Homo sapiens: one gene and its partners. The protein of the gene in region 2 interacts with the protein of the main gene of each other region in a biochemical or structural test. Each region holds a gene or a part of one and is shown on either strand. Other genes may lie near its edges.

Region 1 (2,773 bases), on a different chromosome or scaffold from region 2:
TGCACTCCAGCCTCTGTCTCAAAAAAAAAAAAAAAAAAAAAGAAAGAAATTGGGACACTGAGGTAAGCAGCCTTCAATCCTTGCTGAGCATTTGGCCCTAATCCTCTAAATTCTTTTGAGAGTTTAGGGTTGGGACTGAGGGAGTGGGTCAGCTTGGATCAACGCCAGCACTCTGGATGTCAGCAGTGGCCAAGCGTCTTCCTTCTGACTCTGTAAAGCTGGAGCAATCCTCTTATTGCACAGGTACTGGCACTGTCAGATAGAAACGACAGCCCTGGGAGGAGACCTGCAGCACTGACAGTCAGTGGTTCAGACACATGAGCCCGGACCCCAGTGCTGTCATGGACCCGTGCCATGACCTTGGCCCAATGACTGTTTCCACAGTGGAAACAAACAGTGAAAGTTCCAACCCCAGATGTAGTGACGAAGGTTCATTGCACTTGCACACAGTAGATGCTCAATAAATACCCATTACTCAATTAGGGAAATGAAGCACAATATCCATTTTTGGAAAATATTTATTAAAAAACTAGTGAATGTGGCAGAAAAACAAAACCAACACACAGCTTTAAATAGCAAGCATATGACACACCGGTTATAAAGCTTTTCCAACTCTACTGATTTAGTCTTTCACACCAGCTACTGTTGAGGAGGGCTTCCGAGGGAAGCCACGTGTAAACGGGTCATCTGTACTAGTGGTGAGCAAAACTAATTACATGAGAACTATCAATGGCCATATGACTTGCTTTCCTAGGCAATCCACCCAAAACATAGGTGAGTGGCCAAATCTCAGGCGTGCGTTCATGTGGATCTATAGTTCTAGTTTTAATTTGAGGGTTGGGGGAAGTTAGGGGATGAAACAGTAGAAAGACAAACAGTATCGGCAGAGGGCAACCTTAAAGCACCTTTAAAATCTGGACCCTTTCCCACAATTTAACCCAGTAATTCTCAAACATTACTGTTGAAAAGAATCACCTGATGAGACTGTTAAATTGGCAGGCTCCCTAAATCTGCAATTTTAAGATAAGCACTCCGGGTGATTCAGTGTCTATTAGCCAGCCATCCAATTTCAGAAACACTGTTTAAAATGCATTAAAACAATTCCTACCTCCCACAAACAAAAGTAAAGGAATCTGCTGACAGTCACTGTGCTTTTGTCAATGTCAAGGGACCAATATGGGAAGGCAGGCAGGAAGGGGCCTCCCATTCCTAACACACTGATCTATAGAAGCCCTGTGCAACAGCCTGTCAAGTGTTGTTTAGGGAGTAAATACAATTCAATAAGAGTTGTTTTAGATCACAGAACAGCATCCAAATCACCAACAGGCCAACCCCATTCATCCCAGGTTAATGAACTTTGTTGGGTCGAAGCCAGATGGGACACTGCTGTTCAAACAAAACACGGGTAATTGTGGGTCCTGACTTGTGAAGACATATGGAATAAAACATCTATAAAAACCTTTATTAAACATAGAGCACTATGCCCAAATAATTTTGAAGGTTTACGAAAGTCACATCATGGACAACATGTAGAAATAGTAACATTGATTCCAAGGTTCCCATTATCTGCAAAAAGATGTGCTATGGCTGTGTCGAAAACAAGGCAGTCGCTGTTCATGATGGCCGCAGCCACACCGTCATGAATCGAACGGGGCGTGGCCTCCCAGGTCAATCTCCGCCGGTTCCCATTCAACTCCAGTCTGTAGGCAAAGTTCTCGGCTTGCTTGCGGGTGCCAATGAGCAGGACGATGGCAAAAAACTGCTGGTGGCCTTCGTACTTCTCTTGTTTCTCCAGCACCAGCATGAAGTGATGGCCAAAACATGACTGCATCATCACCCAGTCGACAGCCCCTGGCAAGTTAATGTCTGTAGCTAGAAAGACGATGTCTTCTCCCTGAAGGGTGGTAATGCTCTTGTGGGCGTGCATGAGATGGGACATCACAGCTTCCAGGGACCCCTGCCACTTGCAGGAAGCACCAGGACATGGGCAGGAGTAGGGACGGTATTCACATATGTCTTCATGTTCTGGTTTCTCCGTATGGTGCAGGGTCAGGGAACAGCCCGTGGTGGCATACTGCAAAGAAAGAAATGCATTGAGCCATTGGGCCTTCTCAAAACTTCTATTGCTTCAACCCTCTATGAGTACTTAACTACTCCATTTTCCTGGGCTTAAACTGTGTTCTTAACTACTTTTGCTCAAAGCAAGTGAAATATTCAAGACTAAAAGTCTCCGTCTCTATTCATCATCAATGCTGTCATGCATAAAATGAAGGGTATTTCCTGAACCAGAAATACGCTGTTTTCCATGCCCCCTGTTCCGCTGTCAAAGGGATCAGAACTAAAGTTCTCTTACTGTGCACATCTCAAAATTGTTGAGCAAGCCCTATAAAAGCTGGTCTTCCCCATATTTTCTGTGAAGCTGTTTTTTAAAGAATTCAATTGCTTGGGTGGTGGGGATGGGGTTGGGCAAGGAATATTATATTATCCCAAGATTAGTTTTCACATATAGACAATATTAACAACAGTATAATTCTGTCGTCCCCCTCCACTGCTTTCTGGCTCAAACTGGTGACTGGCAGGCAGGCCGTGGGGAAGGCTGCCCTTTGGTTCCTTGCTCTTTGCTGCTGGCATCACCAGGCTAGGGCAGCGGAGGCCTGGAGACCCCTTCATACAGCTAGAAATATTACCCCACTGCATCCTTTTGACCTTCCCTCTGGGGGGCTTTGCCCATATTTTTTGGGTGGAAGGAAATCACATCCAAGAGCTACTTAAC
Region 2 (3,500 bases):
TATTAGATGACATAGGTGAAATGGACAAACTCCTAGAAAGATACAAACTACCAAAACTAACACAAGAAGAAACAGAAAATCTGAATATACCCATAAGAAGTGAAAAGACTGAATGATAATCCTAGCACATTGGGAGGCCAAGGCAGGCGGATTGCTTGACTTCAGGAGATTGAGACCAGCCTGTGCAACATGGCAAAATCCCGTCTCTACTAAAAACAAAACAAAAAAAAATTTAGCCAGGTGTGGTGGCGCGCCCCTGTAGTCCCAGCTACTCTGGAGGCTGAGGCACAAGAATCGTTTGAACCTGTGAGGCAGAGGCTGCAGTGAGCCAATATTGTGCCACTGCACTCCAGCCTGGGTGACAGAGAGAGAGACTCTGTCTCCAAAAAAACAAAACAAAACAAAAGACTGAATGAGTAATCAAAATATCCCTACAAAGAAAAGTGCAGTCCCAGATTGCCTCACTTTAGCTTGAGCAACATAGGGACACCCCATCTCTATCAAAATAAAAAAATTAGCCACACATGGTGGCACATGCCTGAGGTCCCAGCTACTCAGGAGGCTGAGGTAGGAGTTGAGCCTGGGAGGTCAAGCCTGCAGTGAAACGTGATAGTGGGTAACACTCCAGCGTGGGTAAGAGTGAGACCCTGTCTCAAAAAAAAGAAAAAAGAAACACACGGCTGGCTTCATTTTAAATTCTATCAAATATGTAAAGAACTAATACCAATTATTCTCAAACTTTTCGAAGAAATTCGGAACGGAACACTGTCAACTCATCTATGAGGCCAGCATACCAAAACCAGACAGAGACATCACAGTAAAACCACAAACCAATATCCCTTGTGAATATAGATATAAAAATCCTCAACAAAACAGTAGCAAACTAAATCCAGCAACACATAAAAAAGATTACAAATGACCAAACAAGAATTAACCCAGGACGCCAGGCGCGGTGGCTCACATCTGTATTCCCAGCACTTTGGGAGGCCGAGGCGGGCGATCACGAGGTCAGGAGATGGAGACCATCCTGGCTAACACGGTGAAACCCCGTCTCTACTAAAAATACAAAAAATTAGCCGGGCGAGGTGGCGGGCGCCTGTAGTCCCAGCTACTCGGGAGGCTGAGGCAAGAGAATGGCGTGAACCCCAGGGGGCAGACCCTGCAGTGAGCCGAGATCACGCCACTGCACTCCAGCCTGGGCGACAGCGAGACTCCATCTCAAAAAAAAAAAAAAAAAAAAAAAAAGAATTAACCCAGGAAAGCTTGGTTGGTTTAACATCTGAAAACCAATTAATATAATACACGATAACAATAGAATATAGGAAAATAGACACAGAAAAAAATTTTGGCAAAATGCAACACCCTTTTATAACAAAAAATACTCAGAAAACTAGGAATAGGAGTAAACTCCTTCAACCTAATAAAGAGCTTTTATTTTATTTATTATCTATTTATTTTTAATTTAGAGGCAAAGTCTTGCTCTGTGGCCTGCAATCATAGCTTGCTGCAGTCTCCAACTCGTGGCCTTAAGCACTTCTCCTGCCATAGGCTCCCAAAGCACTGAGATTATAGGGTGAAAGAGTCAGAGCAACCAGCCAGAAAGCATTTTTTTTTTCTTTTGAGTCAGAGTCTCACTCTATCACCAACTAGCTGGAACTACAGGCTCCTGCCACCACGCCCGGCTAATTTTGTTTTTGTATTTTTAGTAGAGACGGGGTTTCACCATGTTGGCCAGGATGGTCTCGATCTCCTGACCTTGTGATCCGCCCACCTCAGCCTCCCAAAGTGCTTGGATTACAGGCATGAGCCACTGCACCCACCCCAGAAAGAACTTTTATGAAACATCCACAGCTTAGTCTTCAGATATCAGAGGAGAAAGGAGAGAGGAAGAGAGAAGAGGAGAGAGAAGAGGAAAGAAAAGAGGAGAGGAGAGGAGGGGAGGGGAGGAAAGGAAAGCGGAAGGGAAAGGAAAGGAAAGCGGAAGGGAAAGGAAAGCAGAAGGGAAAGGAAAGGAAAGGAAAAAAGAAAGGGGAAAGGGGAAAGGAAAAGGAAAAGGGAAAGAGAAAGGGAAAGGGAAAGACCCACAGCTAACATCATACTTAGACTGCAAACTGGCCGGGGATGGTGCCTCACACCTCTTATCCCAGCACTTTGGGAGGCTGAGGCAGGAGGATCAGATGACAGCAGGAGTTCAAGATCAGATTGGGTAACATGGCCAGACTCTGTCTCTACAAAAAATAAAAATAAAAAAGTTAGGCCAGCCACGGTGGCTCATGCCTGTAATCCCAGCACTTTGGGAGGCCGAGGCGGGTGGATCACCCGAGGGCAGGAGTTCGAGACCAGCCTGGCCAACATGGTGAAACCCCATCTCTACTAAAAATACAAAAATTAGCCAGGCATGGTGGCATAAGCATGTAATCCCAGCTACTTGGGAGGCTGAGGCAGGAGAATCGCTTGAAACCGGGAGGAGGAGGTTGCGGTGAGCCGAGATCATGACATTGCAATCCAGCCTGGTGACAGAGCAAGGCTCCGTCTCAATAAATAAATAAATAAAACTTAAAATGAATAAAGGACCTTAATTAAACATAAGAGCTAAAACTAGGCCAGGCACTGTGGCTTATGCCTGTAATCCTAACACTTTGGGAAGCCAAGATGGATGTATTGCTTGAGCTCAGGAGTTTGAGACCAGACTGCAACATGATGAAACCCCATCTCCACCAAGAATACAAAAAGTTAGCTGGGAGTGGTGGTGCACATCTGTGGTCCCAGCTACTCAGGAGGCTGAAGTGGGAGAATTGCTTGAGCCTGGGAGGCAGAGGCTGAAGTGAGCTGAGATTGTGCCACTGCACTCCAGCCTGGATGACAGAGTGAGATCCTGTCTCAAAATAAACAAACAAACAAACAAACAAAAATTTAAAAAAAGGAATTAAAACTGTAAAATTTTAAAAGAAAACATAGGTATAAATAATTAACAAATAATAATAATAAACAGCCTCGGCCAGACGTGGTGGCTCGCGCCTGTAATCCCACCACTTTGGGAGGCCAAGGCGGGCAGATCACCTGAGGTCAGGAGTTTGAAACCAGCCTGGCCAATATGATGACAACCCGTCCCTACTAAAAAATACAGAACTTAGCCACGGTGGTGGGCACCTGTAATCCCAGCTACTCAGGTGGCTGAGGCAGGAGAATGGCTTCAACCCAGGAGATTGAGGTTGCAGTGAGCCAAGATCGTACCACTGCACTCCAGCCTGGGTGACAGAGTGAGACTCCGTCTCAAATAATAATAATAATAATAATGATAAACAGTCTCTATTTATTCAGCACCTACTTTATGCTGGTCATCCTATCAGGATCTTTGTTTACTTGTCTTTTTTTGTTTTTCCTTTTTGTGGAGAATGGGGTCTCGCTATATTGCCCAGCAGGTCTCAAACTCCTGGGTTCAAGCTATCCTCCCACCTCTGCTGCTCTAAGAGCTGGGATTACAGTTGAGAGCCCCTGCA
Region 3 (3,500 bases), on a different chromosome or scaffold from region 2:
AGAGCGAGACCCTGTCTTGGGAAAGAAAAAAAAAAAAAAAGCTTTGAATGAGAGACTCCCTGGCTTCTGTCTTCAAGGGCTTTTCCTTAATGAACCCCAACTCTGCCACTCAGATCTCAGTGAATATCTTCCGGACTCTGCCGCCCAGTGAGAACCCTGAATTTGACCCTGAAGAGGATGAGCCCAATCTTGAGCCTTCGTGGCCACACCTGCAGGTCTGAAGGGTTGGGGAAGACAGAGATCCAAGTTTCAGAAGAGATCCAAGGCATGGGGAGAGGGCCTCCTTAGCCCCTAGACAGTTGGATGAGGGCCATAGGGTGGAATGAGTGGGTGAGGCTGTTACTGAACTCACCTTTTTGTCTGTCCCCCTCCCCCAGCTGGTATATGAGTTTTTCCTGCGTTTCTTGGAGAGCCCAGACTTCCAGCCCTCCGTGGCCAAGAGATATGTGGATCAAAAGTTTGTCCTGATGGTGAAGTGGGGAGCCCAGGCTGGGTGGTACCACAAGGCAGGGGCAGGCTCTCTGAGGGGCCAGGGATAGGATGGAAGCAACCTGGGGTGGACCTTTCCCCTGACCCTGACCCTGACCCTGACTCTGGTTCCCACAGCTCCTGGAGCTATTTGATAGTGAGGATCCCCGGGAGCGTGAGTACCTCAAGACCATCCTGCACCGGGTCTATGGCAAGTTCCTGGGTCTCCGGGCCTACATCCGCAAACAGTGCAACCACATCTTCCTCCGGTGAGTGGCTGCTGCCTGCCCAGCAGAGACCTGGGGAGGGTGAGAGGGCTGTTAGAAGACTGCGGCAAAGGCCATGTGCGGTGGCTCACACCTGTAATCCCAGCACTTTGGGAGGCCGAGGTGGGTGGATCACCTAAGGTGAGGAGTTTGAGACCAACCTGGCCAACATGGTGAAACCCCGTCTCTAATAAAAATACAAACATTAGCCAGGCATGGTGGTGGGCACCTGTAATTCCAGCTACTTGGGACGCTGAGACAAGAATTACTTGAACCCAGGTGAAACCCCGTCTCTACTAAAAATACAAAAAATTAGCCGGGCGCGGTGGCGGGCGCCTGTAGTCCCAGCTACTCGGGAGGCTGAGGCAGGAGAATGGCGTGAACCCGGGAAGCGGAGCTTGCAGTGAGCCGAGACTGCGCCACTGCAGTCCGCAGTCCGGCCTGGGCGACAGAGCGAGACGGATGAACCCAGGAGGTGGAGTTTACAGTGAGCCGAGATCATGCCACTGCACTCCAGCCTGGGCAACGGGGAGACTGTGTCTCAAAAAAAAAAAGAAAAGAAAACAAAAAAAAAGAAGACTGCAGCAAAGGCTCCTGGGCTGCAGGGGCCCTTGTAGAACTTCTGTTTTCCAAGCCCTTTCTCAGTAACGTATTACATATTGATTATACAAAGCCTGTGAAGTTGACAGAGAATGGGTATTTATTTCCATTTTACAGATGAGAAAGTAGAGGCCAAGAGAGATGAAATGGTTTGCAGGGACTGGGTCAGTCCAGGGGCCTAGGAGCTAAATCATTTGACCCTTATCATGCCAGGCCATAAGGACCCAGAGAGAGATTCTTTCTGCAAACATGCACTGAGCACCAGCACCCACTGGGCATCAAGGCTCACGTGGCCTTGTAGTTGAGACCATGGCTCTGAAGCTGTATGGCCTACATTTGAGTTTGGTTCCAACGTTTGGGTGAACTTTGGCAAATTACTTAAGCTCTCTCCTAGTTTGCTCGTCTTTAAAATGGGAATGCTGGCTGGGTGCAGTGGCTCATGCCTGTAATCCCAGCACTTTGGGAGTTGGAGGTGGGCAGATCACTTGAGATCAGGAGTTCAAGATCAGCCTGGCCAACGTGGTGAAACTCCGTCTCTACTAAAAATACAAAAATTAGCTGAGTGTGGTGGTAAACACCTGCAATCCCAGCTACTCAGGAGGCTGAGGCAGGAGAATCGCTTGAGCCTGGGAGGTGGAGGTTGCAGTGAGCCAAGATTGCGCCACTGCACTCCTGCCTGGGCGACAGAGCGAGATTCCATCTCAAAGATAAGATAAAAATGGGGATGCTGCTTGTACTAACTCAGGGACCATTATCGAGGTGACATGGGGCCTTGCCTGCAAAGCACTCAGCATAGCTCCTGGACTGAGGCCGGGACTCTGAAACATTAGTTGTTATTAGCTACAAAATGGGTGAGCCATGATCCCTGTCCTCCTGCACCTTGGAGTTCATTAGATTCCCTGCCTATTAACATTGGGGTTGTTTTATTTAACCGCTGAGTCTTGATTTCTTCATCCATGTGATGGATTTCTTAAGCCCCATCTCCCTGGATAATTCTGAGACTTACATGGTACGGAGTAGATGTGCTAAGTGTTTGTCATTCTCTTGGTTGACTGGCAAGAGAGCCTTGAGCTTGGGACTCAGTGGCAGAGGTGGCTGGGCTGAGAAGGGCATTTCAGTGTGGGGGGGCGGGGATCTCAATGGGGCCTGGTTTGGGATGTTGGGAAGGGAGCGCAGCCTCTGGGTTGGGGGAGAGTTGGATGAGCGTGCCGTGCAGGTGAGGGTGGGCAGGCAGGATGCCTAAGGGGGCACTGGGCCTACCCTGCTTGCTTTGAGCCCACCTGCGTTCTTCTCTTGCAGGTTCATCTATGAATTCGAGCACTTCAATGGTGTGGCTGAGCTGCTGGAGATCCTAGGAAGGTGATTCTCCCTGGGCCTCAGCTGGAGCTCAGGATTCTGGAAGGAGGGACTGGGGCCAGGTCACCTGAGCCCTCTTCCTCTCTTCTGCCTCCTCCTCAGCATCATCAATGGCTTTGCGCTGCCCCTGAAGACGGAGCACAAGCAGTTCCTGGTTCGCGTCCTGATCCCCCTGCACTCTGTCAAGTCGCTGTCTGTCTTCCATGCCCAGGTGAGGCCCAGGCCTGTCCCTGCTGCAGCAGGAGCTCCAGACAGTCAGGGCAGCCAGTGGGTCCTGGAGGTCAGATCCTCCAGGGATCCTATCTCACCTTCTTTGTCTTTATAATTCTGTTCCATCTACCTTAGAAAATTCCCACTGGCGCTTTAAGGCTAACCTCAGATATCAGCTCTGTGAAGCCAGGCTTTTCTTCTCTACCCTCCCTTGGCAGAATTACATTCTTCTCCATCTATATTCCCAAATATTTGGATACACAAATCTATTATGGGAGATTTTGATACACAATTTTTTTTTTTGAGACAAAACCGTACTCTGTTGCCTCAGCTGGAGAGCAGTGGTATGAACATGGCTCACTGAAGCCTCTACCTGCTGGGCTCAAGCAGTCCTCCCTTCTCAGCCTCCCGAGTAGCTGGGACCACAGATGTATGTGCCACATGCCTGGCTAATTAAAAAAAATTTTTTTTTTGTAGAGACAGTGTCTTGCTATGTTACCTAGGCTGGTCTCAAACTCCCAGGCTCAAGTGATTCTGCTGCCTCGGCCTCCCAAAGTGCTTGGATTACAGGCGTGAGCCACCACACTAGCCATATTATGG
Region 4 (3,500 bases), on a different chromosome or scaffold from region 2:
TTGTTTATCATGATATGCCCAAAGACTAGCACTGTGCTTGGCACATAATAGATATTCAACACATTTTTTGAGGAAGGAAGAAGGGGATTTTAAATAATAGAATTCCTAAATCCTTTTCTGAAACCGCCTTTGACAGCTATAATGTCTTTCATTTACAACAGCTTCTGGAGCTATTTGACAGCGAAGACCCTCGGGAACGGGACTACTTAAAAACAGTCTTACACAGAATTTATGGCAAGTTTCTTGGTCTTAGAGCATTTATCCGAAAACAGATTAACAATATTTTTCTAAGGTAAGTGGAGTGTGATGGGGGAAGAAGGAGAAGCAAAGTTGGTGTTTTTATGAGTATTAAGTAAATCTCAAATATCTGAAAACGGTGTACTGACTTCTCTTTCTCCCTTTCTGCCTGCCTTCCTTCATTCTACTGACTCTCCTGCCTCTTCCTCTACCCCCTCCCCCTCCTCTCCTCCCCCATCTTCTCCTCTCCTCCCCCATCTTCTCCTCTCCTCCCCCATCTTCTCCTCCCACCCTCCTCTTCCTCCTCTTTTCCTCTTCCTCTCCCTCCTCCCCCCACTGCTTCTTCTCTATCCCTCCTCTCCCCCTACTTTCCCCCTCCTCTTCCCTCTCCCCTGCTTTTCTCCTCCCCCTTCTCCTCCTCCCCCATCTCCTCCTCCTCTCCTCTTTTCCTCTCCTCTCTCCTCCTCCTCCTCTATCCCCTGTCCTCCTCCTTTCTCCCTCCCTCTCCTCCTCTCCTCCCCGCTCTCCTCCTCTCCTGCCCCCTCCCCCTTCTCCTCTTTTCCTCCCTCTCCTCCTCTCTTCCCCCACCTCTCCCTCCCCCATCTTCCCCCTCCCCTCTCTTCCCCCCTTCTCCTCTCCTCCCCCGTCTCTTCCCTCCTTTTCTCCCCCTCCCCCTTCTCCTCCTCTTCTCCTCCCTGTCCTCCTCTCTTCCCCCACCTCTCCCTCCCCCATCTTCCCGCTCCCCTCCTCTCTTCCCCCCTTCTCCTCTCCTCCCCGACTCCTCTCTTCCCTCCTTTTCTCCCCCTCCCCCTCCTCCTCCTCTCCTCCTCCCTCTCCTCCTCTCTTCCCCCCATCTCTCCCCCGTCTCCTCCTCTCTTCCCCCCTCCTCCTCCCTTTTCCCTCTGCTCCTCCTCCCTTCCACCCTCTCCTCCCCCCTCTTCTCCCCTCTCTCCTCCGCTCTTCCCTCCTCTCCTCCCCCTCTCTCCCCATCTTCTCCTCCCTCTCCTCTCTTCCCCCATCTCTCCCCCATCTCCTCTCTTCCCCTCTCTCCTCCTCTCTTCCCTCCTCTCCTCCTCTCTTCCCTCCTCTCCTCCTCTCTTCCCTCCTCTCCTCCTCCTCTCTTCCCTCCTCTCCTCCTCCTCTCTTCCCCCCTCCTCTCCTCCTCCTCTCTTCCCCCCTCCTCCTCCTCCTTCTCTCTTCCCCCTTGTCCTCCCTCTCCTCCTCTCTTCCCCGCTCTCCTCCTCCTCCTCCTCTTCTCCTCCTCCTCCCCCTTCTCCTCCTCCTCCTCCTCTTTTTATCCCTTCCTTCTCCTCCTCCTCTCCTCCTTTCTCCTCCCTTTTCTCCTCTTCTCTCAGGTTTGTTTATGAAACAGAACACTTCAATGGTGTAGCTGAACTGCTGGAAATATTAGGAAGGTGAGCACGGTTTTTCTAATTGCTAATCTCAGATGAATATTATTTTAAAAATTAGGTTCAGGTGGCACCAAGAGATGCTCACCTAGTTCTCTTGCTGTATGTACATTGGGTCTCTCTCATTTGTGCCTATTAGCATATTTTCCAGCTGACTCTACAAGACACAATTTCCTGTTCCCCTTGTTCCACAAGTATGCATTGCCATTTCCACTGGAATGACTGAAAGAGCTGACAGTTCATTCATTACTAGAAAGATGGTACATCTAATTGTGGTCAGGCTAGTTACTCCAAAACATCTTATTCTCATTAGTTTTTAGGCTATCTGGTCCTTTGCCTTATCTGTTGAAAGCAAGTTTATAATAAATTGGAAAGATTGCCATTTTCAAAGGAGTTGTGTATCCAGGTATAGTCCTTGAACAGCTGCAGCCTGGAGTAGTGGAATGAATTGGAAAGAGCTGTGGTGTAAGTTTCTACACACAAGGGAGGATAATGTAGCTGGACAATATGATTACTTAATCTTTTCTCCTAATATGAAGAGAAAAAGAAGGTGGAGTCACATGGCTTTCTCTCAGTGATTTCCCTAGGCTGGGCAGAGGTTTCAGGAATGAGAAGGAATGATGTCTGGAAATGGAAAAGGTCATATTTAAGGCGGAAGCAAGCAAGGCGGGCCATTATTTGGAGAAGGAAAAGGGAGGGAAAATAAAGGGTTTTGATAAAGAGCTTTTGGAAACCATCTGACTAATTTTAGGAGCACAGGAGCCTTTGTTGGGTGACCAGAAGCAAATTTTCTTCTCTTAAATTTCCTTCCAACTTTTTGTATTCCTTGAAGTCATTAAGAAATCCTGGCTGGGTGTGGTGGCTCACGCCTATTATCCCAGCACTTTGGGAGGCCAAGGTGGGCAGATCATTTGCAGTTAAGAGTTCTAGACCAGTCTGGACAATATGGTGAAACTCCTTCTCTACTAAAAATACAAAAAAATTAGCCAGGCATGGTGGTGGGTGCCTGTAATCCCAGCTACTTGGGAGGCCTGAGGCATAGGAATAGCTTGAATCCCGGAGGCGAAGGTTGCAGTGAGCTGAGATTGGGCCACTGCACTCCAGCCTGGGCAATAGAGCAAGATGACTCTGTCTCAAAAAAAAAAAAAAAAAAAAAAAAAAGGAAATTCTGAATGCCACTGGGGTGGGTATTATGTTGTTTTGTACAAACAAACTGATTAAGTTTAATTAATATCACAAGAACAGTTTGTCTCAGTTCAACTTGTGGTAACATTGCTAATTTGTGTCTCTTTTTTCTCCCTAGTATTATCAATGGCTTTGCTTTACCTCTTAAGGCAGAACACAAACAGTTTCTGGTGAAAGTATTGATCCCTTTACACACTGTCAGGAGCTTATCACTCTTCCATGCACAGGTAGGAGGATTTTGTACAACTACTTTTAGAAGCAAAATAAAAAGTTTGCAAACTCGTTTTTTTGATATTGATATAACCTTCATTTTGTTTTTTTGGTTTTTGTTTTTTGAGACGGAGTCTTGCTCTGCCGCCCAGGCTGGAGTGCAGTGGGACAGTCTTGGCTCACTGCAGCCTCCACCTCCCGGGTTCAAGCAATTCTTCTGCCTCAGCCTCCCGAGTAGCTGTGACTACAAGCGCACGCCACCATGCCCAGCTAATTTTTGTATTTTTAGTAGAGACGGGGTTTTACCATGTTGGCCAAGATGGTCTGGGTCTTCTGACCTCATGATCCGCCCACCTTGGCCTCCCAAAGTGCTGGGATTACAGAGGTGTGAGCCACGGCGCCGGGCCTATCGCCTTCATTCCCAAAGGAAAGAGACTTACTTAAGTTTAAAATACTCCC

What was found. The genes of interacting proteins can lie anywhere in the genome.
Region 1: the proteins of CHEK2 (region 2) and SIAH2 form a complex in vitro, tested with the Homo sapiens proteins (one study listed by BioGRID).
Region 3: the proteins of CHEK2 (region 2) and PPP2R5B form a complex in vitro, tested with the Homo sapiens proteins (one study listed by BioGRID).
Region 4: the proteins of CHEK2 (region 2) and PPP2R5E form a complex in vitro, tested with the Homo sapiens proteins (one study listed by BioGRID).

What each region holds. Positions count from the first base shown.
Region 1 is NC_000003.12:150,740,625-150,743,397, forward strand, and holds the end of SIAH2 (E3 ubiquitin-protein ligase SIAH2), read right to left. Parts: intron 2,075-2,773; coding exon 1,517-2,074; 3' UTR 501-1,516; downstream 1-500. UniProt on the Homo sapiens protein: E3 ubiquitin-protein ligase that mediates ubiquitination and subsequent proteasomal degradation of target proteins.
Region 2 is NC_000022.11:28,728,321-28,731,820, forward strand, and holds part of CHEK2 (serine/threonine-protein kinase Chk2), read right to left. Parts: intron 2,229-3,500; coding exon of another isoform or gene 2,100-2,228; intron 1-2,099. UniProt on the Homo sapiens protein: Serine/threonine-protein kinase which is required for checkpoint-mediated cell cycle arrest, activation of DNA repair and apoptosis in response to the presence of DNA double-strand breaks.
Region 3 is NC_000011.10:64,927,689-64,931,188, forward strand, and holds part of PPP2R5B (serine/threonine-protein phosphatase 2A 56 kDa regulatory subunit beta isoform), read left to right. Parts: intron 1-113; coding exon 114-215; intron 216-377; coding exon 378-470; intron 471-606; coding exon 607-737; intron 738-2,633; coding exon 2,634-2,693; intron 2,694-2,792; coding exon 2,793-2,901; intron 2,902-3,500. UniProt on the Homo sapiens protein: As the regulatory component of the serine/threonine-protein phosphatase 2A (PP2A) holoenzyme, modulates substrate specificity, subcellular localization, and responsiveness to phosphorylation.
Region 4 is NC_000014.9:63,393,378-63,396,877, reverse strand, and holds part of PPP2R5E (serine/threonine-protein phosphatase 2A 56 kDa regulatory subunit epsilon isoform), read left to right. Parts: intron 1-161; coding exon 162-292; intron 293-1,592; coding exon 1,593-1,652; intron 1,653-2,949; coding exon 2,950-3,058; intron 3,059-3,500. UniProt on the Homo sapiens protein: The B regulatory subunit might modulate substrate selectivity and catalytic activity, and might also direct the localization of the catalytic enzyme to a particular subcellular compartment.